4 separate regions of the Homo sapiens genome follow, and all the other regions are linked to region 2. Evidence: fine-mapped expression QTL. A gene starts in region 2. Each other region holds a variant in brackets. All regions are shown on one strand. Distances are between the middles of the regions. Region 1 overlaps MGME1 (mitochondrial genome maintenance exonuclease 1). Region 2 holds the start of MGME1 (mitochondrial genome maintenance exonuclease 1). Region 3 has its middle 32 kb from the start of SNORD17. Region 4 has its middle 60 kb from the start of ZNF133.

Evidence for each region.
Region 1: its variant is fine-mapped to the expression of MGME1 in fibroblasts (GTEx, PIP above 0.99). The same link has a PIP of 0.9 or more in monocytes, spleen, subcutaneous fat, visceral fat and whole blood.
Region 3: its variant is fine-mapped to the expression of MGME1 in whole blood (INTERVAL, PIP 0.98).
Region 4: its variant is fine-mapped to the expression of MGME1 in coronary artery (GTEx, PIP 0.98).

Annotation. Positions count from the first base shown.
Region 1 is chr20:17,988,463-17,996,500 of GRCh38, reverse strand. MGME1 (mitochondrial genome maintenance exonuclease 1) reads right to left here. Exons shown (of 5, transcript NM_052865.4): 5 at 5,379-6,562. The coding sequence ends at 6,392. Among named protein-coding and RNA genes, the nearest start is that of MGME1, 23 kb to the right of the region's middle. RefSeq lists an enhancer at 301-370. The variant G/A (reference allele first, on the strand shown) is at 3,789.
Region 2 is chr20:17,966,617-17,973,663 of GRCh38, reverse strand. MGME1 (mitochondrial genome maintenance exonuclease 1) reads right to left here and starts at 4,646. Exons shown (of 5, transcript NM_052865.4): 1 at 4,523-4,646; 2 at 3,294-3,863. The coding sequence starts at 3,804. It overlaps SNX5 (sorting nexin 5), which reads left to right and starts at 4,870. Exons shown (of 13, transcript NM_014426.4): 1 at 4,870-5,289. The coding sequence starts at 5,239. RefSeq lists enhancers at 3,652-3,781, 3,802-4,001, 2,941-4,140, 4,722-5,031, 4,648-5,402 and 3 more and a silencer at 5,032-5,241.
Region 3 is chr20:17,926,675-17,934,712 of GRCh38, reverse strand. No RefSeq gene overlaps it. Among named protein-coding and RNA genes, the nearest start is that of SNORD17, 32 kb to the left of the region's middle. RefSeq lists a silencer at 2,991-3,191 and an enhancer at 4,930-5,456. The variant G/AG (reference allele first, on the strand shown) is at 3,886.
Region 4 is chr20:18,224,650-18,232,687 of GRCh38, reverse strand. No RefSeq gene overlaps it. Among named protein-coding and RNA genes, the nearest start is that of ZNF133, 60 kb to the left of the region's middle. RefSeq lists an enhancer at 6,878-7,377. The variant A/G (reference allele first, on the strand shown) is at 3,592.

The DNA of each region.
Region 1 (8,038 bases), 22 kb before region 2:
ATTTGGTAGCAAGGGGCCTCACTGGGCTGTGTAGCCAGGCTTCTATATTATTGTAGTAGAAAAAGTGAGAAGTACAAGCTGCCTGAAAATACAGAGGTAAAGGAAGAACACTCATGTAGTTGATTTTATTCAAAACAGACCTGTGTTGGTGACTAAAATGCCCAAATTACCCGGAGATAGATGTAGGTCCGCCCATTTTTGGCTTCTGCCCCATAATTGCAGTGTACTTCTCTCACCACTAGATGACAGTCGCGTTTTAAAGCAGATTTTATTCACGCGTTAATGCTGTTCCAAAAAAAAAATGGTTTTCATACCGTCAGAAGAGGGGCTCACAACTCTTGTGTTAGAGAATATGCGAGAAATCAGGAAATTTCAGACACCACTGGTGGGACATTAAGTCGATGTCACTGTTTTGGAGAGGAATTTGGTGGTAATGTTCAAGCTTTGACCCAGCAGAGACACATCCAGGTCTGATCATTTGATAGGAGGATGGCTAACATTTTGTTCCCACCATGTGTCAGGCACTTTTCTGAATGCTTCGCTCATTCAATCCTCACAATTTCAAGAAGCAGATACTATTATTTTCCCCCAAATTACAGATGAGGAAATCAAGCACAAAAAGGTCAAGTAACAGGCCGGGTGCGGTGGCCCACGCCTGTAATCCCAGCACTTTGGGAGGCCGAGGTGGGTGGATCACGAGGTCAGGAGATCGAGACCATCCTGGCTAACAAGGTGAAACCCCGTCTCTACTAAAAATACAAAAAAAATTAGCCGGGCGTGGTGGCGGGTGCCTATAGTCCCAGCTACTCAGGAGGCTGAGGCACGAGAATGGCGTGAACGCTGGAGGCCGAGCTTGCAGTGAGCCGAGATCGTGCCACTGCACTCCAGCCTGGGCGACAGAGTGAGACTCCCTCTCAAAAAAAAAAAAAAAAAAAGGTCAAGTAACTAGTCCAAGGTCACAGAGCTAGTAAGTGGCAGAGTCACAATCCATACTGCACTTTCCACTATATTGCATGTGTATTGTGTGTACCAGAAAACACGTGCAAAGGTGTTCACTGCTGCATCGTCTGGAGTAGCAAAACACTGTTAACCGAACAGTCCATTAGCATGACAATAAAACAGGAGGGAGAACTGCAGAGGAGTTAAAAGCAGTTATGAAAGATCTAGAATTGGTGAACCTGGAGACATCTCAAAAACAAAGTTGAGATAAAGCAAGTAAATCTAAAAACACAGAAAGCAAAACTATATTATACATGGAAACCAGTACACACAGTAAAACTATACAAAAAAACCCACATCAAATTTATGACGGCATTTGTCTCAGGGGAGAGGGAAATGGGATTAAGAAAACAAGGCAACAGCTTTTATCTGTAATGCTTTTTTTTTTTTTTTTTTTTTTAGAAGACTGAGTCTTGCTCGCTCTGTTGCCCAGGCTGGAGTGGAGTGGCATGGTCTTGGCTCACTGCAACCTCTGTCTCCTGGGTTCAAGCAATTCTCGTGCCTCAGCCTCCCAAATGGCTGGAATTACAGGTGCCCACCACCACGCCCGACTAATTTTTATATTTTTAGTAGAGACGGGGTTTCACCATGTTGGCCAGGCTGGTCTCGATCTCCTGACCTCAGAAGATCCACCCGTCTCAGTCTCCCAAAGTGCTGGGATTACAGGCATGAGACACCGCGCTGGCCTGGTCTATTTTTTGTTGTTGTTGTTGTTTGTTTTAGAGACAAGGTCTCACCCAGGCTGGAGTGTAGTGGTGTGATCATAGCTCTCTGCAGCCTTGGACACCTGGACTCAAGTGATCCTCTTGTCTCAGCCTCCCAAGTAGCTAGGACTATCAGCATGACCCCCATGCCCAACGACTTTTTTTTTTTTTTCCCAAGACAAAGTCTCGCTCTGTCGCCCAGACTGGAGTGCAGTGGCGTGATCTTGGCTCACTGCAAGCTCCGCCTCCCGGGTTCATGCCATTCTCCTGCCTCAGCCTCCCGAGTAGCTGGGACTATAGGCACCCACCACCACGCCTGGCTAATTTTTTGTATTTTTAGTAGAGACAGGGTTTCACTGTGCTAGCCAGGAAGGTCTCGATCTCCTGACCTCGTGATCCGCCTGCCTCGACCTCCCAAAGTGCTGGGATTACACGACTTTTTACTTTTTAGAGATGGGAGTCTTTCTATGTTGCCTAAGCTGGTCTCCAGCTCCTGGCCTCAAGCGATCTTCTAGCCTTGGCCTCCCAAAGCATTGGGTTCAAGGTGTGAACCCCTGCACCTGGCCTGTAACAATCTACATATTTTATATCTATTTCTTAAGTAAAATGGGAAAAAACCCTCAAATCTGAACCCAAAACATTATTTATTTATTTATTTGAGACAGGGTCTCATTCTGTTGCTGAGGCTGGAGTGCAGTGGTGCAATCTTGGCTCACTACAACCACCACCTCCCAGGCTCAAGCGATCCTCCCTCAGCCTCCCAAGTAGCTAGGACCACAGGTGCATGCCACCACACCTGGCTACTTTTTTGTATTTTTGGTAGAGATGGGGTTTTGCCATGTTGCCCAGGCTGGTCTCAAACTCCTGAGCTCAAATGATCCGCCTGCCTCAGCGTCCCAAAGTGCTGAGATTACAGTCATGAGCCACTGTGCCTGGCCATCTTTTTATGATTGGATCTTCACAAATGCATTACTCAACCTGACAATTGTTATTGTCATGGCAACATACAAGCCTTTTGCTCATTCTGGGGTCTCTCCCCAGAGATTCTCTCTAGTTCCCTTCAATAGTATAAATAACTGAAGTGGATCAGTAGGTTAGACTTCCAGCAGAAGCACATATCTGCTTAACTTTTAGGCCTCTGCTGGCGGGAAGGGAGGCAGGAAGGAAAAGTCAGTTCTACTTTTTACTTAGCATTGAGTGATTTAACACATAGCTCCAAACAACTTATTGTTTCTTTAAACATGGAAGTTTCAACTATTCTCTATTTTGTTTCTTAATGTTTTTTACTCCAATGATTCCCTTCCTTCACTCTTTTGTTGAGGGGTGGGCAGGAACACAGGGTAGGTTATAATCAAATATTTAATTGCTCGGGTGGAAAGCCTCAGTGATTAAAACAAAGTACCCTTCTCCAATTCCTTTTAAAGCCAGTAGCCAAATTGGTTACCTAGGAACACACTGACTTATGACTAACCCCCTTCCTGTATTTACCAAGGTCAACACATATGAAACCGTAGGTCATACACTGACGAGTTTTCCTAGAATTATAATAGGGTTATAGAGGCTAATGTTCTCAGATTATCAGGCTCTGAGGAAGAGGCCAGGTGTAAGGAGGAAAAAGGCCATACATGTATGTGTATATATTTATACTTTTTTTTTTTTTTTTTTGGAAAAAACAAAATTGGCTTTTGTGTCAGCATGGAACTTCTGTCAGTTGCTGACTGCATTGGTAAGAATGGGTAGAACTGTGGAGGAAAAGGAAATGCAGTTAGCTTTGAAGCCAACGGATTTTCTCAAAACTAAACACTGGAAGGCAACATTCTGTACTTCTGAGAAAGCCTCCTCAGAAAAGCAATATACACACACCTCCTTTAAAAAAATGTAAATTATCCTTGAGCGTCTCTCCTTATTTTGAATGCTGTTTCATTTCACTGGAGTTTCATATGCAGTATTTCACTTCGGCAAAGAGATGGCAACCAACAATTCCTAACATACGTGTTAATTCCTTTTTTTTTTTTTTTTTTTTTGAGACGGAGACTCGCTCTGCTGCCCAGGCTGGAGTGCAGTGGCGTGGCCTTAGCTCACTGC[G/A]ACCTCTGCCTCCTGGGTTCAAACAATTCTCCCGTCTTAGTTCCCCAAGCAGATGGGACTACAGGTGTGCACCACCAGGCCCAGCTAGTTTAATTTTTAGTAGAGAAGCAGGGTTTCACCATGTTGGCCAGGCTGGTCCTGAACTCCTGACCTCAAGTGATTCACCCGCCTCGGCCTCCCAAAGTGCTGAGATTACAGGCGTAAGCCACTGCCTCATACATGTTAATTCTTGAAAAACTGCAACTCATTTAGAAACTCAAATTTGACTTTCTCCTCCTATGCTTTCGTAGTAACAATAACTTTTTCCGTTGACATTAACATCTCAGGAGATGTGACCCCCGAGGAGTATCATGATTATCAGGAGAAACTGGTGAGCCCTTGAGGTCAAGAAAACCTGCCCAGGGATTTACCTTCTCTGTTCTTATACCAACCACATCCTCCTGGTCACACTCTCCTGAGGGGCTCCCTCATAGAACTTTTCAGGCCACCATTATCTTGGGAGACTCCTAGTACAAAGTCACAGGTCTGAGACAAATTTCTATTTACATAACAGAACACCTGTATTAAAATGAAATTTTGCAGCTGGACATAGTGACTCACGCCTGTAATCCCAGCACTTCGGGAGGCTGAGGCAGGCGGATCACCTGAGGTCAGGAGTTTGAGACTACCCTGGTCAACATGACGAAGCCCTGTCTCTACTAAAAATACAAAAATTAGCAGGGCATGGTGGTGCACGCCTGTAATCCCAGCTACTTGGGAAGCTGAGGCAGGAGAATTGCTTGAGCCCGGAAGGCGGAGGCTGCAGTGAGCCCACCGCACTCCAGCCTGGCTGACAGAGCCAGATGGTCTCAAAAAAAAAAAAAAAGAAAAATAAAAAGAAATTTTGTTAGGTCTAGCCTCCTAAATTCTAGGTTGAGGCTTATTAGAGCAGAGTGGCAAACTCTGCTAGCACAACTTTTAATTGCCTCACTTCATTTTTGACTGGAATTTACAGGCTACAGAAATATGTATCTGCAGCTTGAGAAAAACCCACATGAATGCAGAAGTGTATAGAGATAATACAAAGGTCCCCCTTGATCCTCCCATCTCCTACCTGAATATTGCTTTCCTTGCTAGGTGACCGTGGCTGAGGGCTTAGTGAGGAGGCTTTTTTTTTTTTTTTTTTTTAAACGGAGTCTCGCTCTGTCGCCCAGGCTGGAGTGCAGTGGCGTGATCTCGGCTCACTGCAAGCTCCGCCTTCCGGGTATACGCCATTCTCCTGCCTCAGCCTCCGGAGCACCTGGGACTACAGGCGCCCGCCACGACGCCCAGCTAATTTTTTGTATTTTTAGTAGAGACGGGGTTTCACCGTGTTACCCAGGATGGTCTCGATCTCCTGACCTTGTGATCCGCCCGCCTCGGCCTCCCAAAGTGCTGGGATTTCAGGCGTGAGCCACTGCGCCCAGCCGAGGACGCTTTCTTTTATGCACTTACACAGAACTCTCACCAAAGCTATTGGGCTTGTAAAATTCTGAATTATAAAAAAAGTGCAAACAATTTCCAGGTTTATAAAATTATCCTATAAACACACAAAGTAAACAAAACCAAAGCTTCATTACTCATATCTTGTATTTTATTTCTTATGAAAATGGCTACCCAAAGAAGTCATTGTAGCAGGCTACTATTTTAAGGCAGCAACTGTATAACTTAAATGCTAAGACTCACTCCATAAGACAGAAAACCCTTCCCCAGGGCTGTAATGGGCATTTAAGTTTCCCAAACCCAGGGACAACTAATTTTTATTACCTATTGAATAGAAACAAATGGATTTTAATAGTTCCCCTCCCCTATAGCTGAAAAACTCCACAAACAATAATTGACTCTATCTACATGATCTGTTGACTCACGCCAGAAATAGTTACTAAAACACTTAGAATTGTGATGTTCAAACTGGCCTCTGGCTACTTCTGGGGGGTTATTTGGTGTTACGCAATGACATATTGCCAGCGACATGGTGAATATACTGTCTTTATAGTCAGCAATGTTTAGTTGAGGCTAATCACGTATTTATTTTTTCAAAAGGTTAAATGTAAGCTTTTCCCAGCTGAAATATATAGAAAACCCCAATGTATGAAACAAGTTTTAGGCATTGGTGTTGGCAGCGGTAGTGGGCTGATGTGTCCTCCCTGCACACAGCTGGGGGCATGTAGCCCCTTCCCCTCTGGGTGAACCCTGGGGAAATCTTGGCACCCTCAGCCTCACTGCCTTCCAATCTCAGCTCAAAGACTGGGCATCCTGCCTGGGACCACGCCCCCCCCCCCCCAATGTCCCTCAAGGGAGTACAAGAGTCACCAGCATGACTGCCCATCCTGCGTGTCCTCCTTTCAGGTAAATAAGAGGTAGCATAGCTGGGATTTCGCGTGCCGAAGTCTAGGTCTTTATATCTAGACTTTGGGGCTTTTCAGTCTTTTTGGTAACAACACATTTCAACAAATTAATACTTCTACTTGTGTTCGTGTAGCACTCAGATCCAGTGGCACCTCATTTTTACACTGGAGTAAACAGCAATATATGTTCCCAAACTGTGAGAAGGTGCTGAATGTTCCCAAATAGCAACTTGCTCCCTATTCTGAATATTCTGGTTTCTGAATATTCTGGTTCTTTTTCTTTTCCGTATATTCTTCTAGTCGAAGAAGCCACTTGGTCCAGTACTGGGAACAGAGCTCTGCATCCATGAAATGTGGGTGGGCAGGTGATCCATCTTTGTAGGCCACCACAATTAAGCCACATTGAACCTAGGAAGAAACACAGGGCAATTCTCGTTTCACTACAGTAGGTCCAGAGTTTAGGTTCGTTTCCTTCTTACTCCAGGGCAAACTCAGTATAAAATAATCTACAGGATATCTCCTAACTCAGTTTCTAAGGTAGGTTGATCAAAGACTGCACCAGGACACAAGAACACAAAGATGACAGATAAAACATTGAAGACTGGGCTGTGATCCTTACAGAGCCATTGAAAAAAAAAAAAGGCCCAAGAAGAGGGTGGAAAAGTGCTTTTTTTTTCTTTTTTGAGACAGGATCCCACTCCCATCGTCCAGGCTGGAGTGCAGTGGCACAATCTCGGCTCGTTGCACCCTCGAAGCTGAGGCGGGCACCACTTCCGGCTGATTTTTCTATTTTTAGTAATGATGGAGTTTTGTCACGTTGCCCAGGCTGGTCTTGAACTCCTGGGCTCAAGCAATCTGCCCACCTCGGCCTCCTTCAAAGTGCTGGGATTACAGGCATGAGCCACCACCCCTGGCCAAAAAGTGCTATTTATTTATTTATTTATTTATTTATTTATTTGGAGAGAGACAGTCTTGCTCTGTTGCCCAGGCTGGAGTGCAGTGGAACAACCTTGGCTCACCGCAACCTCCGCCTCCTGGGTTCAAGCGATTCTCCTGCCTCAGCCTCCCAAGTAGGTGGGACTAGAGGCACACACCACCACGCCCAGCTAATTTTTGTATTTTTAGTAGAGACAGGGTTTCGCCATGTCAGCCAAGCTGGTCTTGAACTCCTGACATCAGGTGATCTGCCCAACTCGGCCTCCCAAAGTGCTGGAATTATAGGCTTGGGCCACCACACCTGGCCTATTTATTTATTTTTGAGACAGGGTTTTGCTCTGTCGGCCAGGCTAGAGTGCAGTGGTACAATCTCGGCTCACTGGAACCTCCACTTCCTGGGCTCAAGCAATCCTCCCACCTCAGCCTCCCAAGTAGCTGGCACAAGTGTGCGCCACCATGTCCAGCTAATTTTTGTATTTTTTTTGTAGATACGGGGTTTCACTATGTTGCCCAGGCTGGACTCAAACTCCTGAGCACAAGCAATCTGCCTGCCTCGGCCTCCCAAAGTGCGTGAGCCACTGTGCCCAGCCAAAAAGTGCTTTTTTAAGTGGGAAAGGAACAAGGAAGACGTTAAGCAATGGGATAAAAATAGAGATTAAAAAAGGAAAAACCTCAAGGAGTTCTATTTTTTAACTTTTTTTTTTTTTACAATTTTTCTCCTCCTACCCCCCCACTGAGAAGTTTTTTTTTTTTTTTTTGAGACAGATTCGAGATGGAGTCTCACTCTCTTGCCCAGGCTGGAGTGTAGTGGCGCAATCTTGGCTCACTACAACCTCCACCTCGCGGGTTCAAGCAATTCTCCTGCCTCAGCTACTAGAATAGCTGGGATTACAGGCATGAGCCACCATGCCCAGCTAGTTTTTGTATTTTTGGTAAAGACAGGGTTTC
Region 2 (7,047 bases):
ATTTGTCAAGTTTTTTTTTTTTTGAGACAGGGTCTTACTTGTCACCCAGGATGGAGTGTACTGGCTCGATCATTGCTCACTGTAACCTTGAACACCTGGCCTTAAGCAATCCTCCTGTCTCAGCTTCCTCTACAGGCATGTGCCACCACGCCTGGCTAATTCAAAAAAATTTTTTTTTTGTAGAGATGCAATCTCTCTACGTTGCCTAGGCTGGTCTTAAACACCTGGCCTCAAGCAATCGTCCCACCTTGGTCTCCCAGAGTGCTGGGATTACAGGCATGAGCCACTGCACTCGGCCTTCAACTATTTTTTACAAAGATGGAAATGTCAATTCTTTTTTTTTCCAGGCTGGAGTGCAGTGGTATGATCTCGGCTCACTGCAATCTCCACCTCCCAGGTTCAAGCGATTCTCCTGCCTCAGCCTCCGTAGTAGCTGGGATTACAAGTGATCGCTGCGCCCGGCTAATTTTTTTGTATTTTTAGTAGAGATGGGGTTTCGCCATTTTGGCCAGGCTGGTTTTGAACTCCTGACCTCAAGTGATCCGCCTGCTTCGGCCTCCCAAAGTGCTAGGATTACAGGCATGAGCCACTATGCCCAGCTGGAAATGTCAATTCTATCATTAGCAAAAAATGGAATCCCTTCTGAAAAATTATTTGGAGAGTTAAATGAAATTCAACTTAGGAACTAAGTTATTCTACTCCAAATTTACTTGACTCAATTGGAATTATTAACACGTGAAAGACCTACAAGAAATTTATGACTGATGGAATTAAAGCCTAGGAAAAAGAAGTGTATAGCATTCATCTACACACTAGGTTAATGAAGCAGAAGACAAACATGTTAAAAACAGGAAGAAAAAAACTTAGCAAATGCCATGCCAATAGACCATACATTTCTCGCTGCAAACTTACCCCTGGCTAGGTTCTTCATATACACATGATCACAAACATGAAAACCTAGATTACAGGATCCTTTAGACACTAAGGCTCAGAACATTCAACATGATTCAATTTATAAAAATAAAAAATGATCCAAGAATATTCACTGCATGTAGCATCAAGTCTGCTTATTCACTCAAAGTAATGAAAGTGAAATGTTTTCAAGTCCTCGTATATGAAGTGCACTAAAAAAAACCTTCATGCATCTCCAGTATTCTCATGATGGAACTGGCAGGATGGCTAATACTTCAGGATTAAATCAGCGTAGCAAAAAAAAAAAAAAAAAAATTAAAACCTAAACCCCATCCCTTTGTGTGTATTTATACACAAAATATAAATCAGAATAAGTCAGACTTTCTCATTCCCACCAGTCTTCAAAAGATGAACTGATGCTTGGGAAACTGCTCAAGTATTTGGAAGAATGCCAGACACATTTCTATGCTCTCACCTTTGAGAAGACTGGGTAGAAATTACTGATCCAATATTTTTCATTAAAAAAATCTTCTTAATTTTTAAAATGTAATTCTTCTTGGGTGCCACCTTCTTGGGTTTGGGATCCAGTATCCTCCAGACCCGTTAATCAATTTAGTGAGCCCTTTTTCTTTTATTCACCATGACACTAATTGTCCCTTTATTTATTTCAGAACCCACTGCTTACTAATACTTATTTTCTAAAAAGAGTGATTCTGCCTGGGCACAGTGGGTCACACCTGTAGTCTCAGTATTCTGGGAGGCCGAGGTGGGAGCACCACTTGAAGACAGGAGTTGGAGACTAGCCTGGGCAACATAGGGAGACCCTTGTCGCTACAAAAAATAAAAAAATTAGCCAGGCATGGTGGTGCACGCCTGTGGTCCCAGCTACTCAGCAGGCTGAGATGGGAGAATCACTTGGGTCCCGGCGGTCAAGTCTGGGCGGGGTGCTGGGGTAAGCGATTCTGCTCATTTCTTAAGGTTGCTACTGAGTTAACTGAGAAACACAGCTGAGTGCTAATCTAGATCAACAAAGCTGACTCTATGAAAAAAAAAACAACCAGTCTTCTCTCTGCCTGGGCTATTGGGGCTCATTCACATTCCAAACAGAAATTCCTCTCTGGTGCACTTCCTTACTTTGTGCCAAGAGCTACAGGCCCTGGGGTCCCATGTGTTCCAGCAGGTTTCTGCCTTTTAATAATACATTTCTTATTAGTAATTTCAGCTGTACATTCCTGGTTTAAGGAAAATAACTTCTCATGAGAAAACTATCAATTCTAAATTTTAGTGGTACAAATACAAAACTGTAAGATGCCATTAGAAGATTTTTATGTTGCTTGCTTGGAAAGCAGACAATAGTTTGGTGGTTGCTACTAATTAACTATCTTAGGAAGGCAGTTAGCTCTTGCATATATAATCCTTGCCCCACACAGCTGAGGAATATTATAAGGAGCAAAGGCCTTGACCATTTGGTACATATCCAATACCACCTATATATACTTAGTATTTTTCTTTAGAACATGTGACATGTTTAATGTGTTACACGCATAGTTTTAGGAGTCTGGATTAGGGAAAAGACGACTTAAATAGAAGCCCAGGCTATGGCAAGGGTCAGTACACTATTCTTAAAACAAAAATGAAAGAGTTTGTGTACTACTAAGAGTACATGTACTGCACTTTGGGAAGCTTGGGTAAAGGAATGATTGATGTGAAACTTTCCTTTAACAAAAGACCCCTATATAATTTATGGGACTAGCTAATTCACCAGTGCCAATGGTCTTTGTTTTTGAATGGAATATTAAATTTAAGGAAGCTATTCTCCTCACTTGTCCAAGTTAGTAAATTAGAAGTTGAAGGTTAAAGTGTATTTATCCTCAGATCCTTATGAAGAACCTCTGATTATGTTTACCAAGGTCTAAATATAGGTCATGTGTTCTGGTCTGCTTCAAGGTCTTTAAATTTACGAGTCAGTTTACGCTAATAAGTAGGACAGTGGGTATTTACTGGATTCTAAACAGAATTATCTAGCAAACAACTAGAATTCTGTTACCAGGTGACTTTTTTCAATAATCAAGGAAAACAAGCAATTCTAATATTGTTGGTAGCTTATAAAACAAGTGAATTTTATGTATTATTTAGTCAAATATTTGATCTATTTTAGTTTCATCTGTAAAATGTGGATAACAGTATCTATACTCCACAGGACTACCATGAGGATCAAGTGAGTTAATACACATAAAGTGCTATTTAATGTTAATTACTATCTGAAGGGAGTTCCTTGCTAGTAAGTTAAAAAAACAAAACCAAACCTCATTCTTTTGACACCGTTGCTCTCTATTATAGAAAACATAGCAAACATATAGAATCAGAATTGAGATAATTACTTGAAGTGTATTCTTTAAAGCCATCTTCTCCCAGTTCCAGAATCATCCGCTGTTTCCACCTCTCCAACAAGAAAACCTGTTGTTTTGTCATGGTCTGCTGAAGGACTCGGGTCACACTTGGTATCACATTCCTTTGCAAGGGGATTTTCAAAGGAACTGAAGGATCACTTGCATTTGGTTTATCACTTCTCTCTGGATTGAAGATAGGAAACCAGTTTTGTGGCACTCGTCTGTCCTCACCTTGGTTTGGCAGCTTATGCTTGCTCACGGGTCCACAGAGCAAAGCATCTTCCTCCACCGATCCCGGGGTCTGGGCGACGCCTCTGGATGACAAGACAGACTGAACTAAATTAGAGTATTTTTCTTGGTCCACTTCTTCATATGGGTTCACTTTTTTCTTCCGGCCACATGAGTAAGAGGAAGTAGAGAAAGCCACAAGGGCAGCTGATTCCACAGAAAACTTTGAACTCCTGAGCTGCCTGCAAATGGTCTGAAATAACTTCATCTTCATTCAGATTTGTTTTCACTTTAGTCTATTTGCAACGGTCGAAGGCCTTTATGTTTGTATTCCTATTGGAGAGAAAACAACCATCAAAGCGAAAGCTGCATCAGAATGATATTGCACATCAAAATTGTGAACTTTTTCGACATGTTTGGACAGAGCCCTTTCTTAAGAAAGTCGACAGAGCGAGACCCTGCCTCCAAAAAAAATTTATAAATAAATCAAGACTCAATACCCGAAGGACCGACACATACTAAATGCGAATTAGTAGACAGCTTGAGGCAAGACGTCCCAGTTTCTAATCTGCAGGAATGTGACGCCCAGGAAGGGAGGCGTGTGCGAGACACGGAAAAACACAAAGATGGAGCCCGTCCCATGGCGGCCACACAGTCCTAGGTGACAGACGACGACTAATTCCTAGACACCAGGCTCTCTGCTAAGTATTCTGTGTGGATACTTCTCATTTGGTCCTCACACCCTCTACCGTGGGTCTAGAATGAACCCGTTGCACAGACGTGGAAATCGGGTTGGAGGGTCCCGTCGCTCGCCGGTCAGAGCTGGTGGCGGCGCTGAGGTCCCATTACTGTGACCGCAAAAAGTCGCCTCCCGCTCCGCCGTGGGTGCGGACCCCTGGCGGGGCCAGGACGGCGGTGGCCCCTGTGGCAGGAGTCTGGATTAGAGAAAAGACGACTTAAATAAAAGCCCAGCCTACGGCAAGTGTCGGTACCTTGGAAGCCACCACACTTCGCTTAACTCTCAAGGCGCGAACAACCTCTCGCGACCCGTACTTTCATCCGTCCCGCGCTTTGGTTTCGAATTAGGCACAGCCTAAGGCAAAGCAGGTCCAGAATGCCCCGCGGCGCTCACGCCCCACCCGAGGCTTTCGTCGGCCTCCGCCAACGCGCCACCAGTTAGAGGCAGGGAGTACCTCTCCGAGCGGAAGGGCCGGCGTCTCCGAAGCGCGGGAGCCTCCAAATCGCGCCCTTCTGCTCTCACGAGATCTGGTGACGTCAGCGCTCGCTGCCATCTTGGACTCGGGCTGAGTAATAAATTCCCCCCGCACCGAAACGCGGTCTTTCTCTAGACGCGTCTTGCTGGGAGAGTGTCCGTTGCTTCCCGTCCGTGTCGCGGCCCTGCGGTTGGCGGCCTCCTCGTGGAGCGGAGCAAGGGTAGGCCCCACGTGGCGTCTTTGCCCGGCTCCAAGATGGACGGCAGCGGGGACTGGGAGGCTGCTCTGGGGGAGCACGTGGCGCCCTGCTCGCCTGCTCCCGGGGCAGCTGGGATGGTGGCGGAGTCCGGAGGCCTCCTGCCGCCGTCGGGCAGGGAGGCCGGCGGAGGCGGGGCCGTGGCCGCCCCCGAGAGGCGCCCAGGCGGCGGCGGCGGCGGCCCAGCTTCTTCTTTCCTCGCACAGCCAGGCGGCCCCTGCTCGAGTCCCGCGTCGCCATGGCCGCGGTTCCCGAGTTGCTGCAGCAGCAGGAGGAGGACCGCAGCAAGGTGAGGTCCTCCCAGCCTCAGACTCCTGGGCGGGCGGCCCTGCGAGCTCCGGGGTCGCTGCATTCTTTCCCTTGCGCGTCCATAGGCCGTGGCTGCTCGCCGCCATCCCCAGCGCGGGAAGCACCCGTGAGACCCGGGCGGCCCCTCTCCCTGGTCTTCACTGAAGGCTGCCCCGGGGAATCCCTGTGGATGTCCCGGATTCTATTAGGACAGAACCAGAGACGCGGGACCTTAGCCCCAGCTCAGGCGCCGGTGCCGAGCGGACTTGGAGAGATGATCTCTGGAGACCCCGGAATGTTCTTTTTAAAACTTTCCTCGGCTTCGTGGTGACCAGTAGGTGAACGTGAAATTGACTTAACATGCGACAGACCAGTTTGGTTTGTTGCCCCCAAAATACCCTCCTTCCCCCCACCTTTTACTGAGAAGACTTTTTTGGGGGGGGGGCCCAAACAACTTGGGAAATTGCATCAAGCGTCCGAACATGCTGCTTACAACTTTAGAAACGCAAAATGCGTTGTTGTGGGAGTTGTGTAATTTTTAGTAGGTGCTCAAATACTTGCTGAACTTGGTGTCTATTTTTAAGTCTTGCCCATTGATGTAAACTGTCCCTAGGTCACGTGTATCTTGAGGTCTAAAAGATTATTTATGCAATAAATTGAAATTCCCATAGCCAATTAAAGATTCAGACGAGCCTCCACTCTTTTTCATTGGTTCTTTAAATTTGCCTCGGTAGCTTTGCGATGCATGGTTTGCGAGCAACCTTTCTTGCAGAATCGTCAACGTAAGTTTTTCTGACCGATGAAAAAGAACCTCTAAAAATACAAGGCTCTCTTAAAATGTAATTTGGAGCCGTCTTAACTTACACATTTCTTGAGAAGTTAAAGGCACCTCCATAGAGAAACTTGTTCATCTAGTAAGTAAATACCAGAGTTTCAAAGCGGCTGGATTGTTCCAACAAGGGTATCATTGCATTAATTATTAAAATAGAGCTTTCTATACAGGAGGGTGTTGTTTAGAGTGGTTTTTTTTTTGAAAGTTCTTTATTACTAAAACAAAGTGGAAACTTGAGACCACGATTCTTTGTAAAACATTATAAAGGTACTTTTCTCCATAAAGGGTAGATAATGGATTGGGATTTTGGTAGCATTTTATTTTTTCTTTCTTTCTGGTACATTCTTTTAGCTGTCTTGATTCGGAGTCAGCTAGGTAAAAGGACTCAATTGCTTCACCCCACTCTCTGGTAGTACAGTATATTGCAGCTGGTTTTTAAAATGACTTCCACCACCCTGATCCTCCAGCAAAATTGGAGAATGGTTATGAAGGCCATTTCCTGCCTGTTTTAGAGGCTACAGAAACTGTCCGTATCTGTAGCGAAGAGAGTTACATGACATTGTTTTCCTTTTTACATTACAGGAATAAAGAGACAATAAAAATAAATAATTACCCTGACGCGTGGCTTTATTTTTGTTTTCTGATCTCTGCTGATGCTGATAACCTGCTGTGGTCTGGCCTAGATGGTGTTATGGTTAACTGAAAGGGAGTTTGGGGCAAGTATGAAATAATGGGAAACTAAGTCTTGGGCAACTTTTTGCCATAATACAATTTCGGTAGTCAACTGAAATGTTTTGTGTGTTACCTGAAATGTGTGTTACTTAAATTGTTTAAATGCCCTCCTGATAATTTACTTTGGTTTGGAATTCTCCCTAAGGATGGAGTTAATTAAGACTCACTAAGGTAGGGGGACATACTTGATTCTTC
Region 3 (8,038 bases), 39 kb after region 2:
TGCCTGCCCACTCCCTCTCTGTAATTTGCTCGTCCTTCTCTCTAATTTTATAGCCTCCTCAGCAGTTTCCCAAAGATCGGGGGCTCAGTTTCCACTGGACCCCCCTCCCTGGCTTAATGAAAGGGGCTGCTTTGCAGCCACTGACTAGCTAAGGGTGGGGATCATTCTTAAAGCCCTAGGGGATGGGAAGATGTGTTGGCAAATGTTTTAGAGCAGGGGCCAACAACCCCTTTTGTCCGCCAAGTGCTATCCTAAGTCCCTTTTTAGCCACTTCTTGAGAAAGGCCCTTACAAGAAGAAGCGGGCGGGAGGCGGCGAGGCCGACTGCTGGGTGTGGAATGTCCGGCTCTGGGTGGTAGCCTCCTTGTATTATTGCCTTATGTTGCGGTTTAACTGCTCTTGCTCATTTTCCTCGGGGTCTTATTTCCCCGGCTGGATTGCAGCTCCCTTAGGGTAAAGACTCTGTGATGTGTTTGAATCACCCAGGCCTCCCAGGGTTCTGCCTCTGTCTCACTCCCTGGCACCGGTGACCATGGCCAAGCTCCTGAAGCTCATCCCTTTCCACGTTGGTAAAATGGGAGGGGGGTTACTCTGAGCACAAAAGGAGAGTCCAGTTAGTGAAGGGGCTGCCACCCCTGCCTGCCCCGGAGAGGTGTTTGGAATACCGGTCCTATCTCAGGGGAGAGTCGTAGTTGCCACTAGGAGGAGGGGCTGTGAGCGCTGAGGTAGGCCATGCACAGCCTCAGTGAATGCTTAATGAACATGACCTTGGTGTTCTCTTATGGGCCCCTGCCCATCTCCTGGCTGCAGCTATGCACACAGTAGACTTTCAGTCTATGCTGTCTGTGCCTTTGCATGCAGAGCCATTGGTCTGGGGACTAATTCTAGGGGTTTCATTTCTGTAAAAGAGCTCCTGTCTTTGGGCTTCCATGGTGTAGCCAGGCTGGGCTAGCAGCTCTCCTGCGGCAGTGCAGAGCCTGCTCTCCTGGCTCTGGCTGGGGCTGGCCCTTTGCTCAAGTGCCTCTGGGGGCAAAGTCGTTAGCCAGGTGGGCTTGGAAAATTCAATACCCAGCCTGAAGATGGAGGGTCCTCCCCTTCTCATGGGTCTCCTCTGCTGAAATGCCTCCCTAGAGTCACCCTTTGCTCTCCATCCCCTCCCCTGGGATCAGCAGTGCTGTTCTCAGTTTTCCTCAGGGCCCTGGACCCCCAAAGTCACCTGCAGTTCCTTCCTGCACACCCAGTGGCATCCTACATCAGGACCTGCCTGCCTCTCTTCTCAAGGGCACCCCTGATGGCAGGGGCACACTCCACCAAGCTGGGAATGCCCAGAGTTAGCACACACTCCTACTGGGGCTTCCTGGGGCCATCCCCCCACAAAATGCTTCTGCTTGAATCTTCCTTTTGGGTCAGCTCTTGGGGAAAGCTGGGCTAAGGCAACATTACCAAGCAGTCACACGTGAATTCCAGGGACTCTTGCTCTGTGGTTTTCATCCCAAGTTGCAGAGGATTTCCCCTGAGTGCCCAGGAGGGCAGGAGGGCTTCTGACCAGGGCAGGAGGTGCCATGGGAGATGGCTGGGTGAGGCCAGCCAGAGGCTGCGGGGGACCCTCCCCCTCACCCCTCTTCCTCAGCCTTCCTGACGCTCTGAGAGTTGAGGGGACCCCTGGCCAAGGTCTAACAGCCCCTGATGTTTTCTTTCCTTTGGTAGCTTTGCATGAAATGATGAAAGTCTATTTAATGAGGTGCTGGGATTGTCAGAGGCTTCTCACTGTTGAGAAGTTTTTTTTGTCTCCCTGTTAGGGACTGTTCAGGTCTCAATGCAAGTTAGGAGAAGAAAAGGCTCAGACCAGGGATCCCTGATGCCTGGCCCAGCTCTTGGTGGTGGGAGGAGGTGCCTCTGTCCAATGGCCTGAGGGAGCACCAGGCAAGATGTGCCACAAGATACCTGTGTCCCTACACCTGCACTAGTCTCTCCGCCTCAGTTATCTCACCTGAGAAACAGGGCTGGAGAGTGGGGTCTGCAGACCCCATTAGTGGGTTGCAGGAAAGGAGGAAGTCCCTTTACACTCTAGAGGGTTATTCAAGTGCAGTGACCACTGTCATTCAGGGATTGAGGGCCCAGAGCCAGGCGGGCAGCTGGGAGGTGCCCAGAATACGTCTTCTTAGTGAGAGCGCTGTGGCCAGCTGGATGGGAGCCCCTAAGGCAAAAGATGAACTTGTTTATTCCACAAATATCTGAACCCCTACCAGGTGCTGGGCGCTAATAGTGGTAGACAAAATAGAGAATCTCCTTGCCCCCATGACACTCATATTCCATGGTGTGTGTGTTGGGGGAAGAGAGACAATAAACAAATAAGCAAGTAAATACATAAAGAAGCGAGGTGGTAAGTGCTATGGCAAGATATATACGAAGGAGAGTGATGGGAGAGGGGCTTTTTATATGGACTGGCCAGGGGAGACCTCACTGAGCAGAGACCTGAAGGCAGTGAGAGAGAAAAGGCCCATGGAGTTTGCAGGGAGTGGGGTTTCAGGCAGAGCAAAGAGCAAGGGCAAAGGTCATAAGTTAGGGGCATGTTTAGTGTGTTTGTCAGCTGTTGTTAGCTACATAACAAACTACCCCCAAACTGTTTATTTTATTTATTTATTTATTTTTGAGAAGGAGTCTTGCTCTGTCGCCCAGGCTGGAGTGCAGTGGCATGATCTCGGCTAGCTGCAAGCTCTGCCTCCCGGGTTCACACCATTCCCGCCTCAGCCTCCTGAGTAGCTGGGACTACAGGTGCCCACTACCACACCCGGCTAATTTTTTTTTTTGTATTTTTAATTTTAGTAGAGATGGGGTTTCACCATTCACAGGATGGTCTTGATCTCCTGACCTCATGATCCACCCACCTTGGCCTCCCAGAGTGCTGGGATTACAGGTGTGAGCCACTGCACCCAGCCCAAACTATTTATTTCTAATGGCTGTGCTCAGCTGGGCAGTTCTTCTGGTAGCTGGGCTCACTCAGTTGTCAGAGGTCAACTTCCAGGTCTGCTGGGGCCAGCTGGCTGGCTCAGAATGGGGTCAACTGAGATAGCTTGTCTTAGTTCTGTGTGGGCTCTCATCCTCCAGTGGGCTAGCCCAGGCTGTTCTCATGGCAGCTGGGCGGGGTTCCAAGAGAGTGAGTAGAAGCTGCAAGGCCCTTGAGGTCCACTTGGAACAAGCACACCATCCCTTCTCCTGCATTTCACTAACCAAAACAACTTACAAGGGCAGCCTAGATTCAGGGGGAGGGAAAACAAACTCTATCTTTTGATGGGAGAAGTGGCAAAGATTACAGCCACTTTTGCCATTTACTATATAATCCCCCATTTTGGGGGGGTGAGAAACCAGGCCTCAGAGAGGCAAAGGCACAAGCCACTTGCCCAAGACCACACACTGCTGAGATTCACATCCATGCCTATGGGTTTACCTTCATGATTTGTGCCTTTTCCAGTATTGACTGTCTTTTGTTTATCCATTAAGTTTCTTAAATTGATTTTTTAATTTCCCCAAAATTACATGTTAAGGTAGAAAATACAGAAAAGCAAATAAATCACTGCAATGGCAAGACCCAGAGGTGATGTGCCAAAGCAACCCTTCAGGCTTGTTTCCCACACGCACATGTGACTCCATACCCCAGCTACACACACACACACACACACACACACACACTCAAATACTTTCTCAGGTGGTGTCTTTATCTCATGTGAAAATAAAGAAAAAGTGGCCACAGGCTTGGTGCCATGTCTCACACCTGTAGTCACAGCATTTTGGGAGGCTGAGGCAGGAGGATAGCTTGAGGCCAGGAGTTCAAGCTCAGCCTGGGCAGCATGGAGAGACTCCATCTCAAAAAAAAAAAAAAAAAAAA[G/AG]AACAGCGGCCACAGGGAGATTTCATCTCTAGGAGGGTCAGATAATTTGGAGATATTTATGTTTTTAAAATCACGCAGCCTGGGCAACATAGGGAGACCCTGTCTCTACCAAAAAATAAAAAAATTAGCTGGGCATGGTGGTGTGTGCCTGTGGTCCCAGCTACTTGGGAGGCTGAGGTGGGAGGATCATCTGAGCCCAGAAAATCAAGGCTGCAGTGAGCTAGTGATTGCACCATTGCACTCCAGCCTGGGTGACAGAGCAAGACCCTGCCTCAAATAAAATAAAATAACAAATAATCAGAACGGGCCTGTGGAATAGTGACTAAATGCCAGTAGCATTTTGGGGTCCAGGTTTAGATGAGTCTTCAACACCAGAGTGACTTTTTGGATGGCGGGTGATGAGGACTGGGCAGGTGGTGGCCCAGGCGTGGGGAGGTGTCCACGGCAGGTGTTCTTGGCTGGGCAGGCAGCCAGCAGGGCCGGGGTCTGGAATCCACGACATGAAGACTGCACATATGAGAAGGTGGGGGGGACCAGGGATACCCCGAGGGCAGGGGAGTGGGGTTTGGGGTGGTTGGTGGGGAACGTGACAGCAGCCAGCCAGCCTTTCAGGACCACCAAGGGAACAAAGGAAGAGGCAGAGCCAGGTGTGTGGGGTAGGAGAAACAGATTTAACTGGCTTCTGAGGAACCTTCTGGTCATCAGAGCAGCCATTGTGGGAGGTCAGGAGGGCAGGTGGGCTGGAGTGGATGGTGCTGGTTTCCGCCTGCCCAGCCTCCTGCCCTTGGTAGAATCCCGGTTTTCCTGTGGGGCACCTCCCCACTTCCAGTCTTGCCCTTTCTGGTAGGCTGCCCCCACCCCGCATGCAGCTGTGGCCAGAGCACTGGGGTCTAGCCTAGGGGAGCCTCATCTCCTTGCATCCAGCCACAGATACTGGCTCACACACTGGCACCTGACCCCTGGCAGTCCAAGGACAGGGAGCCCCGGGACTGTGGCCGGGCTGATAGTTGGGGATGCACTCCCATTCTGTTGGAGCTGCAGGGCAAGCTGGGGTTAGTGGGGACTGCAGGGGGCCATAGAAGGGAAGGCAGGACTGAGATGATGGGAGAGATTCCTGATGGCATGGCTCAAGCACCTGCATCCCGGCCGTATCCACTACACGCCAGGCACCATGCTGGTGGGGACATTCAAGGGTCGGTGGTTATTTGCATTCCAGTGTGCCCAGTGCCAGGGGAGCAGGAAGCCCAGGGGCCGCGGAGCCCAGGGGACAGGCAGGGGCATCTCCCTGGGCTGGAGGTGAGGGGTCAGAGAAGCCTTCTGGCGGGAAGTGATTTGAGCTCCCATAGCCCAGGGGGTCGTCTGGACCATTAGGCTGTTTCCAGCCAAGGGACAGAGCAGGTGTGGCCACTTCACTCTGCCCTGGACCCTCCTCCCTCGCTGCCCCTCACTCCCTGTGCTGCCAAAGAGTGCTGCTCCCTCTCTGAGACTTCGCTTCCTCTTCTGTTACTTGGCTCTAATGAGCCCTCTGCCTAAAATCACTAGGGAAGGTGGTGAAAATGCACATTCCTGAGCTTCGACCTGCAGTGTCCTGGAGGGGTAGGTGTGGGCTCAGGAATGTGCCTCTTACCCAGCGCCCAGGGGCCTCTATTGAGAGCCCTGCACCCACACTTTGAGAAGCTCACTGAAGAACGCCAGCAGGCCCTTTGGTTTGGGGGATCCACTGAACGCGCTGTTGAAGTGGGACAGGTGTTTGGCCAGGGCCTTCCAGCCGTGGCACCGTCAGAGGCTACGGGTGGCCCCTCTGGGACACACCTTTGGCAAACACCAGCAACTGATCCCGTGGATAGGCTCCTCATCCTGACAGCCTGAGTCCAAGCCCTCAAGGTGCCGAAGCACCTGCCGAGACGGGGGAAGGACCTCCGTAGAGGCAGCCTCGCCAAGGGCCCCTGGGGAGGGTGGCTCGGGGCTGAGGCTTCCTCGCAGTCATCCCAGGAGACCCTATCTAGGCCATGTTCCTTCTGGGGCCTCGGCCACCTGGCCTTCCTGCCGCTCCGCACCTTTGTCAATATTTATTTCTTCTCTGGACTCGAACAGCCTGGTATTTGTTTAAAGGGCAGGAGCAGACGTGGCTGTTCCTGCCTCCTTGCCTTGCGCCCTGCTTCCTGGCACCTCCCCAGGGTGCCTCTTGCCTGCAGGTGGGCTCACCAGGCAGGCCCACCTCTGTCCCTGGCCCTCCCACTGGGGCCAAAGGCCTCACAAGAGCTTTCTCACTTCACCATTGACTCCAATTTCCCTCGAGACACCTTGACCTGGGCCTCTGGCCCAACGCACATCATATGTGGCCTACAGGCCTAGAACTGAGATGCTCAGAGCATTAGCAATGTTCCGAAAATACTCCTGGCTTCTGATCCAATAGAACAAGCCACAAAGAGGTTGTGGCAAAAGGTCATGTGGTTTGAAACAGATTTGCACATCATTTTCGGAGAAATCAGAGCCTGTCCTGGGCTGAGGCTAGGGCGTGGACCTGGGAGACCTGCACTGGGAATGCGGAGCTGCTAATACTCCTGATAAATGTGTGACTGGCCCTCGGACAGGTCACTGGACATTTTTTCTGCCAAACAGATTCAGATGTGATTTGTCATTTTTGCCTCCTCCCAGCCTCGGGGGCATGCTTCGGACAGAGGAGGCTTCAGCCTTTACCTCCCCACTCCCACATGCCAAAATATTTTGAGATCTGTTGCCTCAGTTTTGAGTACTGCTCACATCAACACAATGTGGGGATTGTTCCTTTTCTAATAAAGATACTGCTGAAAAACTGGACATTTGATGCTTTTTTAAAAAACCTTTATATTTTGACCCACTTTTAGAAAACTAGTAGTAAAAGTAGCAGAAAATTTGCAAGCCTGGTACAGGCAACTTCTCTATGTCCCTCCAGCAGTTGACCCCAATCTTGCAAAACCATAGCACAATTTGCAAAGCCATAGCACAGTAATCAGAACCAGGAAATTAACCTCAGTACAGCAGCCTTAATCAAACCAAAGATCCCGTGTGAACTTCACTGGTTTTCCCATTAACGTCTTTTTCTTGCTCCAGAATCCCATCCAGGATCCCGCATTTGCATATAGTTGTTTTTTTCTCTCTAGTCTTCTAGACTCTATAATAGTTCCTTGGTCATTCCTTGTCTTTCAGGACCTAGATACCCATGAAGAGTATTGATCAGTTACTTTGCAGAAGTCTCTTAGTTCAGGCCTGTCTGAACTTGGGCTCAGGTTGTGCATCCCAGGCAAGGGCGCCAGAGGCCTGGGGCTGCATCCTGCTCACTGCACGTGTCACGGGGGCATGGCGTTGATGGCTTACGTCTGTGATGATGGCCCTGATCACCTGGTCAAGTGGTCTCTGATGGGCTTTTCCTTGGTAATGTTTTTTCTGTCCCCAAACCCCACCCTTGTCAACAAACCTCCTGGAAGAGATACTTAAGGCTTTGCAAACCCCTTTTTTCCTCAAACCTTCCACCTATTCTGTTGTCTATTAGCAGCTCTTGTCTGCAACAATCACCACTGTGGTGTTGACCTAATGCTGATTTCTCCTTTGCTCCTTCCTTCCGCATGGATTGACTGGATTTTCATTGCAAGGAAGAGCTGTCACTTCCCTATTGACTTATTTAATCAAATACTTATATCAGTGTGGACTTGTGGACATTTATTTAACTCTATGGGTTATTGTCCTAAACTATCATTATTTTTCTTATTGTTTAAATTCTTCCAACCTTGACCATTTGGAGCTCCTTCAGGGCTCCTGTGTTCTTTCAACAAACCACCATCTTCTTCTAGTTCCACACGATGTTCCAGGATTTGCTGCTGGTTTTGCTCAGTTAATTGTTACATATTCTCTTTGGGTTCTGCATAGATTGTGAGCTATGAGAACCACAGATCACATCTTCTGCTTGATATCAACTACGGGCTAGATTATGCTCAAAACTTATTTCTGAGTCGTTGGCAGAGCCAGTTCTTTGGAACTTGGAGATTGGCAGTTGTGATTGTTGTGTTGGGAGCAGTTAAAACCAGGCGGAGCCCAGTAGGCTCCAACTCTGCTGTCTTTTACGGCTTATGTTCATTCTACCTTAAAGTCTCCATGTGACCACCTAGAGTTCAAA
Region 4 (8,038 bases), 260 kb before region 2:
AAAGTAAATTCTGCCACTAATTAATAGAGACAGAAAGAAAAACAGTGGTGGATGGAGTGGAGGGATTAGGAGTTATTGTTTAATGGGTACAGAGTTTCAGTTTGGAATGAAAGAGTTGTGGAGATAGTGATGAGAGTTTCACAAATGATGTAAATGTCCTTAATGCTATTGAATTTTACCCTTTAAAAATTATTAAAATGATATAGTTTATGTTATATATATTTTACCACAATAATAAAAATCTTGAAGTTTTTAAAAAAACAAGGGATAAAATAGCAAACTTCCATTTGCATAAATGAATATATGTGTGGCTGTGGCTGTGTGTGTGTACAAAAATATATATTTGGATGTATTCAGGAAATTTCTGAAGAATATGTGAGTAGTGACAGTAGGTTTCTGGTATGGCAGAGAGTATGAATTTTTCAATGAAAACACTAGATTTAGAGAGGAATATTTTTCATAATATGGTAAAGAATTTCAAATAGATCACCACAATGCCTTTTGCTGCACTGAACTTGTAATCTCTCTCTCAATTTGCTGATCCAGTCCATTACACATACACTACACCTACGAGTAGAGCTAACAGCCAGTTGGCACCTTTGTGTAATTAGAAAAAGACATGCATTCCTCTGGGTAGTTACAGCCCCACAGGCATGCAGCGTGGGGAGCAGAGAGGAAGACAGATGTCAGCCCCTACTTGTCCCTCAGCTGGGTGCATTTTGTAGTGCACAGTATGCACAAGTGTCGATGGTGACCCTGGCTGCAGCCACATTTTCCCTACACAATAAGGGTTATTATTCATAGACCAAGAAAGAACACATAGCACATGTTGTTAAAAATACAGCATTTTTCTTTTTTTTCTTTTTGAGACAGAGTGTCACTCCATCACCCAGGCTGGAGTGCAGTAGCATGATCTTGGCTCACTGCAACCTCCACCTCTTGCGTTCAAGTGATTCTCATGCCTCAGCCTTCCAAGTAGCTGGGATTCCAAGCATGTACCACGACGCCCAGCTAATTTTTGTATTTTTAGTAGAGACAGGGTTTCACCATGTTGGCCAGGTTGGTCTTGAACTCCTGGCCTCAAGTGATCTGCCTGCCTCGGCCTCCCAAAGTGCTAGGATTACAAACATGAGCCACTGTGCCTGGTTAAGAAATACAGCAATTTTTTTTTTTTGAGACAGAGTCTCGCTCTGTCACCCAGGCTGGAGTGCAGTGGTGCAATCTCAGATCACTGCAACCTCCGCCTCCCGGGTTCAAGTGATTCTCCTGCCTCAGCTTCCCTAATAGCTAGGACTACAGGCACATGCCACCACTCCTGGCTAATTTTTGTATTTTTAGTAGAGATGGGGTTTCACCATGTTGGCTAGGATGGTCTTGAACTCTTGACCTTGTGATCCATCCGCCTTGGCTTCCCAAAGTGCTGGGATTACAGGCGTGAGTCACTGTGCCTGGCCAGAAATACAGCATTCTTAAAAATAAAGGTTTATTTGAACTGTGGTATATATATGTGATGGAATACTACTCAGCCATAAAAAGGAATGAATTAATGGCATTCCCAGCAACTTTGATGGGATTGGAGACTATGATTCTAAGTGAAGTAACTCAGGAATGGAAAAACCAAACATCGTATGTTCTCACTCGTAAGTGGGAGCTAAGCTATGAGGACGCAAATGCATAATAATGATACAATAGACAGTGGGGACTCCAGGGGGAAAGGGTGGGAAGGGGGTGAGGGATAAAAGTCTACAAATTGGGTTCCGTGTACACTGCTCGGGTGGTGGGTGCACCAAAATCTCAGAAATCACCACGAAAGAACTTACTCATGGAACCAAACACCACCTGTTCCCCCCCAAAAAAACTATGGAAATACAAAATTTTTTTTTAAAAAAGACTAAAAGGCCGGGCACGGTGGCACGCACTTGTAGTCCCAGCTACTCGGGAGGCTGAAGCAGGGAGAATCGCTTGAACCCGAGAGGCAGAGGTTGCAGTGAGCCAAGATTGTGTCACTGCACTCCAGCCTGGGCGACGGAGCAAGACTCAGTCTCCAAAAAAAAAAAAAAAACAACTGAAAAAAAGGTTTCTTTGAGAAGTACACAGACAGTAGAAGTAGGAAATATTTAACTCTTCTCAGTAGTTACATGGATACAATAGAAATGGCGTCATCTACATTTCTGCTTAACCATTGGTTGCTATGATTTTCATAATCACAGTGACCTTTCTGGTTACCTGAGATTTGATCCTTTCTCTCAGAAGGTCCTAAGAGTTTATTTAGTAGAAAGAAATCCCTTCTTTCTTTTTTCTCCCCACCAATTTGGTGCCAGTAATGAAAGCCTGGTATTATGGGAAGTGGCCTCTCTGGACCTGGTCTGAGGATATCAATGCGTCAATGTTAGGCCAGAAGAAGTTACGTGATCAACATGACATCTGATTTCAGGTAAACAAAATTCACACCACTGACTAGTTTTTGTATTACTTTGTTTTTCAGAACAAAATACTGTATAAGCCACATTACCCCCATACAAAGAATTGTAATCATTTGTAATACTTATGAACTAGGTATTCATTTGTACAAATCTGGAAAGCCAAGATGACCTGGTAATGCTGAGTCAGAAAGGGGCAAAGCAAGAACAAAGGCTCAGTTACCTTGACAGCCGGTTTAGCCTTTCACAGACACACGGGTTTACGCTCTTAAATACACCAAGTTCATGATAAACACATGCTTTATAAAACCAGATCATTCTGAATCTTTGTTTTTTATTTTTTTTCCTGAGACGGAGTCTCTCTCTGTCGCCCAGGCCGGAGTGCAATGGCATGATCTCCGCTCACTGCAACGTCCGCCTCCCAGGTTCAAGTGATTATCCTGCCTCAGCCTTCTGAGTAGCTGAGATTACAGGTGGGTGCCGCCATGCCTGGCTAATTTTTGTATTTTTAGTAGAGACAGGGTTTCACCATGTTAGCCAGGCTGGTCCTCAGGTGATCTGCCACCTCGGCCTCCCAAAGTGCTGGGATTACAGGCGTGAGCCACCACGCCCAGCCCATTCTGAATCTTTTTTTTTTTTTTTTTGAGAGGGAGTCTTGCTCTGTTGCCCAGGCTGGAGTGCAGTGGCACAATCTTGGCTCACTGCAACCTCCGCTCACTGCAACCTCCGCCTCCTGGGTTCACGCCATTCTCCTGCCTCAGTCTCCCGAGTAGCTGGGACTACAGGCGCCCGCCACCACACCTGGCTAATTTTTTGTACTTTTAGTAGAGACGAGGTTTCACCGTGTTAGCTAGGATGGTCTCGATCTCCTGACCTCATGATCTGGCTGCCTCGGCCTCCCAAAGTGCTGGGATTACAGGTGTGAGCCACCACACCCGGCCATTCTGAATCTTTAAAAGTAAATCTTTTTCTATGGAATCTAAAATAGACCTGATTTCAAATGTATCCTTTTTTTGTTTGTTTTTTTTGAGACGGAGTCTCACTCTGTCGCCCACTGGCTTTCCAGATTTGTACAAATGAATACCTAGTTCATAAGAATTACAAATAATTACAGTTCTTTGTATGGGGTAGTGTGGCTTATACAGTATTTTGTTCTGAAAAAGTTAAGTGC[A/G]GAGTGCACAGTGATCTCGGCTCACTGCAACCTCCATCTCCTGGGTTCAAGGGATTCTCCTGCCTCAGTCTCCAGAGTAGCTAGGACTGCAGGTGCCTGCCACCATGTCCAGCTGGTTTTTATATTTTTAGTAGAGACAGGGTTTCATAATGTTGGCTAGGCTCCTGACCTCAGGTGATCTGCCTCCCTCGCCCTTCCAAACTGCTGGGATTACAGGTGTGAGACACTGCACTGAGCGTCAAATGTATTCTTGCTTTTAAAAAGAACAGTTTTAGGCTCACAGAAAAGTTGCAGATAGTAGAGTTCTCCTTTACCCCCAATATCAACATCTGGTATAACCACATTAAAATTAAGAAATGTACATTCTTGTTTGATTATTTACTATAAAAAATTTTTTTCTAGGCTGGGCGCGGTGGCTCACGCCTGTAATCCCAGCACTTTTGGAGGCCAAGGCGGGCGGATCACAAGGTCAGGAGATCGAGACCATCCTGGCTAACACAGTGAAACCCCGTCTCTACTAAAAACACAAAAAATTAGCTGGGCGTGGTGGCGGGTGCCTGTAGTCCCAGTTGATGGCGGGGGTGGGGGGGTGGGGAAGAGGGAAGGGGGTGCTAAGGAAGGAGAATGGCGTGAACCTGGGAGGCGGAGCTTGCACTGAGCCGAGATCGCCCTACTGCACTCCAGCCTGGGTGATGGAGAGAGTCTCAAGTCTCAAAAAAAAAAAAAAAAAAAAAAAAAAAAATTCTAAATGGACATGGGTACTATACTATTAACATAGCTGCAGACTTTATTTGGGCTTCAACAGTTTTCCCACTATCACATATAGATGTCATGTCTCCTTAATCTCCTAAAACCTGTGACAGTCCCTCAGTCTTCCCTTGTCATTCATGACTTTGCCACTGTTGAAAAGTACTGGTCACTGATTTCGTAGAATATCTCTCAACGTGGGTGTGTCTCGGCGTTAGATGGAGTCTATTCATTTTGGGCAGGAAACCACAGGTGGCATTGTTCCTTCTCCCTGCATCCTACTGAGGGAACATCATGTTGATGTATCTTCTTACTGGTGATGGCATTGTGTCCGGAATTGGTGGGTTCTTGGTCTCACTGACTTTAAGAATGAAGCCGCGGACCCTCGTGGTGAGTGCTACAGTTCTTAAAGGCGGCGTGTCCAGAGTTTGTTCCTTCTGATGTTCGGATGTGTTCGTAGTTTCTTCCTTCTGGTGGGTTCGTGGTCTCGCTGGCTCAGGAGTGAAGCTGCAGCCCTTCGCAGTGAGTGTTACAGCTCTTAAGGGCGCGCGTCTGGAGTTGTTCGCTCCCCCCGGTGGGTTTGCGATCTCGCTGGCTTCAGGGGTGAAGCTGCAGACCTTCACGGCGTATGTTACAGCTCATAAAGGTAGTGCAGACCCAAAGAGTGAGCAGCAGCAGCAGGATTTGCGAAAAGCGAAAGAACAAAGCTTCCACAGCGTGGAAGGAGACCCGAGCAGGTTGCCACTGCTGGCTCTGGCAGCCTGCTTTTATTCTCTTATCTGGCCCTACCCACATCCTGCTGATTGGTCCATTTTACAGAGAGCCCAGTGGTCTGTTTTGACAGGGTGCTGATTGGTGCATTTACAATCCCTGAGCTAGACACAAAGGTTCTCCACGTCCCCACTAGATTAGCTAGATACAGAGTGTCCATACAAAGGTTCTCCAAGTCCCCACCCGAATAGCTAGATACAGAGTGTTGATTGGTGCATTCACAAACCCTGAGCTAGACACAGGGTGCTGATTGGTGCATTCACAAACCTTGAGCTAGATACAGAGTGCCCATTGGTGTATTTACAATCCCTTGGCTAGACATAAAAGTTCTCCAAGTCCCCACCAGACTCAGGAGCCCAGCTGGCTTCACCCAGTGGATCCAGCACCAGGGCAGCAGGTGGAGCTGCCTGCCAGTCCCGCGCCGTGCGCCTGCACTCCTCAGCCCTTGGGTGGTCGATGGGACTGGGCGCTGTGGAGCGGGGGGCCACGCTCGTCGGGGAGGCTCAGGCCGCACAGGAGCCCACGGAGGAGGAGGAGGCTCAGGCATGGTGGACTGCAGGTCCTGAGCCCTGCCCCGCAGGGAGGCAGCTAAGGCCCGGTGAGAAATCGAGCGCAGTGCCGGTGGGCCGGCACTGCTGGGGGACCCAACATACCCTCCGCAGCCATTGGCCTGGGTTCTAAGCCCCTCATTGCCCGGAGCCGGCAGCGCCGACTGGCTGCTCCAAGTGCGGGGCCCGCCAAGCCCACGCCCACCCGGAACTCCAGCTGGCCCGCCAGCACCGTGCGCAGCCCTGGTTCCAGCTCGCGTCTCTCCCTCCACACTCCCCTGCAAGCTGAGGGAGCCAGCTCTGGCCTTGGCCAGCCCAGAAAGGGGCTCCCACAGTGCAGTGGCGGGCTGAAGGGCTCCTCAAGCAGGGCCAGAGTGGGTGCCAAGGCCGAGGAGGCACCCAGAGCGAGCGAGGGCTGTGAGGGCTGCCAGCACGCTGTCACTTCTCAGTATCTTTGATCACCTAGTTAAGGTGGTGTCTCTTGGATTTGCCTGCTCTGAAATTACTATATTTCTCTTTGTAATTAATAAACATTTTGGGGGACATACTTGAGTCTGCAAATATCCTGTTTGTCCTCAAACTTTTGCTGAATAGTTTTAGAATTCATTGGTGAGTCCAACAATTATTATTGTGCTTTTCTCAGTGATTTTCTATTTTCCTCATTCCTTCTACACATAAGCAAAAGCTGCTCTTTCTTCCTTATTTATTTATTTACTGATTTTTAAAAACTTACTGGTATCAGTATGGACTCATGGATGTTTATTCTATGGTTATAATCCAACATTACTTTTTTTAAGTCTTAAATTGCTTCAGCTTTGGCCATTAGGAGCTCTTTCAGGTTGATTCCTGTGCCCTTTGACTGTCCTCACCCTTTTTTTCCTGGCATTTCCCTCCTTACTGGCACCATAAGGTGCCTCAGCTCTGGAATAGAAGCATCAATGATATTGCTGTCTAATTAATCATGAACAAAACAAATTATCACTATTGATCTCTACATGACAGAGCTAAAATAATGTCCCAGGCCTCTATGTCACCAACATTTAGAAACTCTGTAATTAGTTTAGATACTATGGTTTTATTTTACTCTTTTGTCCATTTAAGTAACACCTAGAACAATACATCACACGTGCTCAATACATACTTGTGAAATGAATGACTACTCTGTGCCAAACACTGTCTGAGCCCAGCACAGGAAAAACCCAGCACAGAGCTTGGCAAAGGAAAAACACCCTTCTGAGAATGCACGGTTCCTTCTGAAAATGCATAATCCATGCGAGCATTTTTCTTTCTTGGCCAGAGAAGAATTATCCATGTAGCTGGCTTGGGGTTTCTCTTCTTTTAGGATACTGGAGAAAACAGTTGGGGCACACGCCTGCTAACATCAGGTCCTATATAGCAGCTCTCAATTCCAGACCTTAGTGCAGACCCCAGAATGGGAAAGGTAAGCAAAAGAATGGCAGGACACGGGGGATTATGCCGAGAGTCAAATGTCACCACCTCTGAAGGGCTGCTGTGCCTGCTGGCCTAGCCAGAGCACCTTGCCCGCTGATTTTCCAGATGGTGGTTGTTGCTGTTTGTCCCTAGATCTGCTCAGTCTTAGCCTTGACACTGTTTAAATCTGGATGAAAAAGACAGCAAAGAAAACAAACTTAGGGCTTTCTTCTTTTTTTTCCCTGCCCCACCAGTGTTCCCTGGATAGTTTGGCCCCGGCATTCAGCCAAGAAAAACATCTGTGATTCAAGAATCATGACACAGCCAGGACCTGCCACCCTGCAGCTCAGAGGCTTTCTTTTCTTGCAGACAAGGGTGAAGAAGTTAGAGGTCAGTATACTCTCAGTCCTCAGGGGCTCCAGCCTGCAGCTCTGTATTGTCAGCTCGTCAGAGATGTGGGACAGGGCACACTCTCTGTGGGAGCCGGCAGGAAAACCAGGCTGTGCTCAACAACAAGAGAAACAAAGAAAGCACGAGGGCTGAGCTGAGAGAACCCTGCCATGAGTCAGCCTGGGGCTCCGAGGGGGCATAAGGCCAGGCTGATACACAGACACCGCCTACCCTCTGAGTCCCTGAAATGGATTTTTTTTGGGTCCTATTAGCCAATAGGAAGTTGCATACAAAGAACAAAAATTCCTAGGATCACCCATCAAATCAAGTTAAACCTGGGCTTTTGGTATACTGTCTTCCCAGCCACTGAGAGAGATTTCTGTAAAGAAAGCATTGTTTTGTTGTTTTGTTTATTTATTTAGAGACATGGTCTCTTGTGGGCAGCTGCTATGGGTTGAATTGTATTCCTCAAAAAACATATGTTGAAATCCTATCTCTAGTATCTCAGATTGTGAGCTTACTTGGAAATAGAATCTTTGCAGATTTAGCTAAGTTAAGAT